Linked DNA regions of Homo sapiens: region 1 is linked to region 2. Evidence: fine-mapped expression QTL. Tissue or cell type: whole blood. Region 2 holds a variant in brackets; the other region holds the start of a gene. All regions are shown on one strand. Distances are from middle to middle.

Region 1 (2,762 bases), 110 kb before region 2:
TTGTATCTGGGATGGGGACAGAGAGGCAGAATTTCAGACAAAAGGAAAGACTTGGTCAGATTTTCCTGTACAGCTGCCTCTCCAGCCCAGCACTGGGTGAAGGGCAGGCACATCAGACTAAGTGGTTGATGCAACTGAACCAGTTTAAAGGCTGGTAAGACGCTTGCAGAAGTCTTTAGATAGAACTTGCAAACCATTTGCAAAAGGGTTAGGAACAGGTTGCATCAATGCTATGTTTAAGTCCTGCTCTTTGTAACTCAAGGCTCTCCCATTATCTAACAGAACTTCAGAATGAGGGTTCCTTAAAATTAGCTTCAGGTCCTTATGAGCTGTAGCTGAGCAAATGAAATGCAACTGCTTTAGAAGGGAGGAGCTTCCAAGATGCTCCAGTGGTCTTTTCCTTCCCTTCCTCGTATAACGCAATCGGTGGCACAATCCCGCTAAGTAGCATGGCATGCTGGCTGCCGGTGTTCTGTTAAATTAGGGTGAGTGCTTGTCTGTGCTTCAGTTTCCCTTTCGGTTAGGCAGGACTGGTCTTCCCACTAGCTATCATCTATAGTTTACTTAACTCTATTATCATATGATGAATCCCGTAAAGCTCTTCAGAATGTTAGGGAAACAGGTCCTATTATGTCCCCCACTCTACCTTCATGGGTGGGATGGGGGGTCTGGGGGTGGGACCACTGAGAGTCAAAGAAGTTAGGAAGTAATCTGTGTCACAGCAAGCTCCCTGGAAACTCTCAGAATAGCAAACAGGTTTCCTCTCCGCCCCTGGCTCCACGCCATATTTTCGTTTTGGCTAGTTCCTTAGCTCCAGAGAAAATCTGGCTTCACCTAGAATGGTTTAGAAACACCTAAGCCCGCGATGCTTTCCGGAGGGTCTCAGGCCTTAGCTTTCTCAGTAAAAAACAGAATTTCCATGTGTCCCCTTCAAAGCGCTCCTACCGGCAGCTGGAGTAAGGTAACTCCACCGCCGACCTCCGAGGAGTTCATGTGGACTCAGCCCAGGCGCAGAGAGGAAGACTCCTGAGAGTCCTCGCGAAGGAGGGAAACACACCAGAACTAAAGTTGTGAAGGCGCAAGAGGCTACTTAGGAATAATTCCTTGTATCTCTGGGGCAGGTCTCATCCTTCTAAAGACAGGAGTGACTGGGCGTCTTCTTCCAAACAGAGGGCGCTTAAAAATGTATTTTTAAAAAACATAACAGAAAGTCCTGAAACTCACCTTTCGGTCCGCGGAAGGGCTTCCTGCAGGCCCAGGGAATCTCCTGGTTGCTGCCCCGTCTGACAGCGCCCCGGGCCCTGGAGGGAGGTGTGGGTTCCTTTTTGGTTGCCTCTGCACTCCCACCCCGAGCCAGGTCTGGCGTGTAGGGCCCCGGCGCCGGCCAAGGTCGTGGGAGCCGCCCGCCCCGCCCCGCCCCGCCCCGCTCCACCCCCGCGCGTACCTGCCGCTGCCGCCGAGGGCAGCGCCCTCTGTGTTCCCTGCCTTCCTACGGGCCGACGCCTGGCATAGTTGAGGTTTCGCTCCAACTCTGTCCTGCCCCTGATGTCACAGGCACAACTTCCTGAATCTGGCTCGCCGTTCCGCCCGCTCCAGGGGCTCGGCCCAGGCTTTCCACCCTGGGCCAGCCCACCTCGGGTGCCTCTGGCCTTGGGCGCACACGCCCCAGACGCGCCCTCCCTCCCCGTCTTCCCGCCGGTGGCTCCCCACTCCCCGCCCCCCGCCATTACGTGTCCTTGCCCCCTCAGTCCCGGAACACGCCTCCTTCAGGACACAGCGGCTGCGGAGCCAGCCCCGGTGTCTCTCACAGACGCACCAGTGTTCCAGGAATGGGACACAGAACTCCGGGCAAACCCGGCTTCAGGGAAAACAGCTGCCTAAATAGAGGGCCTTCCTGGAAGGGGTGGGAGGCGTTGGAGAGGGATACCATGCGGCAGGTTGGGTGAAGGCTCCGATGTCTTATCGGGACAAATGAGCATGACAGTCCCCTCTAGCCAACGCCGGTTGCTCCAAGGGGTGCAGGTGACATCTCAGAAGAGTCTTTGTCTCTGCTGCCTGGAGGCGCTAAGGAAAACTGCGCCCCAGGAGCTGTCTGTCACAAGCAAATGACGGAGGGGAAAGCTGACTTCAAAAAGTTCTCAGGGGTTCTTCCCTCTCATCCTCAGCTGCTCTCCATCTACTTTCTATTCAGATCTCTTGGCTCTAGTTCCGAGCACATGGGATGCTAGGAAATGAAAAGACCTGCGCCCCTTTGAATAGGGGACTCCAGACACAAAGCTCTGATGATTCAGAGCTTGTTCAGTGCCTCCAGGGATACTGTGGGTGGGAAAAGAGGGGGATGCCAGGACCTGGCTGTGGATCATTTCAGGGGCCTCCTCAGTGTCATCCTGGGAGGTCCTCCCTGACAAGGGCCTGAAATGCTGTTCCCTCGACTGTATTTGCCAGGTACACAGGTACCAGGTGCCAGGTGCTGAACCAGGACTTGCCCTCCATCGACTGTGCCTGAGTATGGGTGTCCTTTGGCTTCTCCAAGTGGGCATTAAAATGACTGCTGCAACCAACTGTCACAACTGAGATTCAAGAGATTCCTTTCTGTTTATTCAGGAGAAACCACGTGGCTCTGAGTTGAAAGGCCAAAGAGAAAACCCACCATCCAGCCTGAAACGCCAAAAATGGCTAGAAAAAGAGGAAAATAAGTTATTTATTTATTTATTTATTTATTTTTTACAGAGGAAGACTAGATTCACAAGCCGGGAGAAGCT
Region 2 (2,762 bases):
TTCTTTTATATTGATTACATGTTGAAAAAATAGTATTTTGGATATATTGACTAAATATATTATTAAATCTACTTTACCTGTTTCTTTTTTAAGTGTGGCTACTAGAAAGTTTAGAATCCTATCTGTGGCTCACATTCTATTTCTATTGGCCAGCACTACTCTACAATGTAGCCTCACATTTTACCCAGCTAATCACATTTCCTGCTGCTCTATTCCAGTCTCTCTGTACCAGCTTCACTGGTGCGCCTAGAACTCTGAGGTCTTTGCACTTGCTGTTCTTTCTGTCTGGAACACTTCAGCTCCAGATGTCCCTGTGACTTGCTCCCCGCCTTCTTGGGACGTTATTCAAACATTGTGACACCTCTGATTGACTTTCACACATATGTATATATATATGCATATATATATACACACACATATGTATATGTATATACACACACACACATATATATATATTTACTGAAGCATAGTGAGGTCATAGGGAAGTGGAAAAGGGAAGGGGTGAAAGTCAGTTGGAGGTGTCACAACTGTGGGAGACCCTCTGAGAAACTAGGTAGAGCACATCTCAGAACTGTCTTGCTCAGGAGCAAGGAAGCTGGGGTATATCCATCACCTGCTTTCTCGAATTATTTGAGAATCACTCCTAGGGACAGTCATTCCATAACGTTTCCATAGAAAAACATTGAAGCTTGAGGTGAAATTCCATTGGCATAAATGAGAACTACCCACAAAAGCTACAGGTGACCTGGGGTAGAGCTAACAGTCTCTGCTCTACTCCTTTGCCCCCAACACTCCCCATCCTCTGAGACCAACCGAACTGTGTCCTCCAAAATTCACATGTTGAAATCCTAACTCCCAATGTGACTGTACTTGGAGACAAGATCTTTAAGGAGATCATTAAGGTTAAATGAAGTCCTAAGGTTGGAGCCCTGATCCAGTAGGATTCATGTCCTTATAAGAAGATACACCAGAACACTCGCTCTGTCCACCTGCACAGAGAAAGGCCACGTGAGCACACAGCAAGAAGGCAGTCGTCTGCAAGCCAGGAAGAGAGAAACAGAATTTGCTGGTACCTTCATCTTGTGCTTCCAGTCTCCAGAACAGTGAGAGAATACATTTCTGTTGCTTAAGCCACTGCTGTTTACGGTATTTTTTATGGCAGCTCTAGCAGACTAATCCGCTCTCTGTGTTTATTTATTTACCTTCTGAGGTTTACCACCATCTCACATAGTATTTATTGTACTAGTTTATTTCATTTGTTTGTTTTCTTCATCCACTATTGTATAGAGTCTGTGAGGACAGATATTTTTGTCTCTTTTGTCGTCTGCTATTTCACCAGTGCATAGAAGAATGCCTGGAGTGTATTTGTTGAATGAACAAATGAATTCATGCCTGTAGCTTCCATTGTGGTCAGTATCTTATTGAT[A/G]TTATGAAATATTAAGGACCACCTACATAATTTGTGGGGGCCCGGTGCAAAATAAAAATGTGGGAGTTTCTTGATCAAAAACTTCAAGTGCTGACAACAAAGTGTTAAATCACACATGGGACATTTCTAGCATAAGGCCCTCTGTGACTGTGCAGGTCACAAGCCCATGAAGTTGGCCATGTATGTGATCCCCAGGTATCTCTGGCTTGGGCCACTCCTTTGAATTTTAGTCCTACACATGCAGCTGCCAGTCTCTTTTGCCTGGATATCTGAAGGCATCTCTAGCTGATGCTCCAAATGGAGTTCCTGTTTTTGGCTCTCACCCAGTGTCTCTTCCTTAGCTGGGCAGCCACCACCTACCCAGTCAGGCTGTCCAGAGTTCTATACACCATCATTATAACTTCCTCATCCACATGTTTGGTTCTGTCCATTTAATTCCTAAATATCTCTTGAGGATATATATTTTCCCAGCTCTACTAAAACCACCTGAGTTCAACTTATCCTAATTTCTCATCTGAACCATTCCTGATTTCCCCCCAAATCTTGTGTACCCCTTCACCATTTACACAATAGCCACAGCCAACTCTCTTAAATGCAAACATGATCATCTCACTCTCCTGCTTGGGCACCTCCGATGGCTTCCCACCACTATTTTTTTTTGTTTGTTTGTTTGAGATGGAGTCTCACTCTGTCGTCAGGCTGGAATGCAGTGGTGCAATCTCAGCTCACTGCAACCTTCGCCTCCCGGGTTCAAGCAATTCCTGTGCCTCAGCCTCCTGAGTAGCTGGGATTACAGGTGTGTGCCCCCATGCCTGGCTAATTTTTTGTATTTTAGTACAGACAGGGTTTCACCATGTTGGCCAGGGTGGTCTCGATCTCCTGACCTTGTGATCCACCTGCCTCGGCCTCCCAAAGTGCTTGGATTACAGGCATGAGCCATCGTGCCCAGCCCCACCACTCTTATAATCGATGAAGATTCAAGCATGGCTTGCAGGGCCCTGTCTGATTAGGTCCTGCCGTCCTTCCCAGCTGCACCTGTGTTACCCATCCCCACCCATCTGTGCTTCAGCCACTCTGGTTCTTCATCATGGCCTGCTCCTCACCTTCACTTGGAAAGGCAGTTATTCTTTATACCATTTTACAGATAAGGACACTGAGCTTCAAAGTGACAAAAGGACTTACCCCAGGGCACACAACCAGTAAGAGGCAGAGTGTGTTCTGGAATCTTTATTGAATGAATGAATGCTTGCATGCATGAATGAACAAGTGAATGGTACAGTAAACAAAGGCCCTAGGTCAGGAGTACTTAGGTGGCTCAGTGGAGATGCATTGAAGG

Evidence for each region. PIP is the estimated chance that this variant, and not a neighbour inherited with it, causes the effect.
Region 1: it holds the start of KIAA0040, and the variant in region 2 is fine-mapped to the expression of KIAA0040 in whole blood (INTERVAL, PIP 0.98).

What each region holds. Positions count from the first base shown.
Region 1 is chr1:175,191,416-175,194,177 of GRCh38, forward strand. It overlaps KIAA0040, which reads right to left and starts at 1,361. Exons shown (of 4, transcript NM_014656.3): 1 at 1,225-1,361. RefSeq lists enhancers at 564-613, 754-803, 1,044-1,193, 1,914-2,023.
Region 2 is chr1:175,304,416-175,307,177 of GRCh38, forward strand. The region is part of intron 1 of LOC105371623 (a long non-coding RNA gene); the gene reads left to right. Among named protein-coding and RNA genes, the nearest start is that of KIAA0040, 110 kb to the left of the region's middle. The variant A/G (reference allele first, on the strand shown) is at 1,427.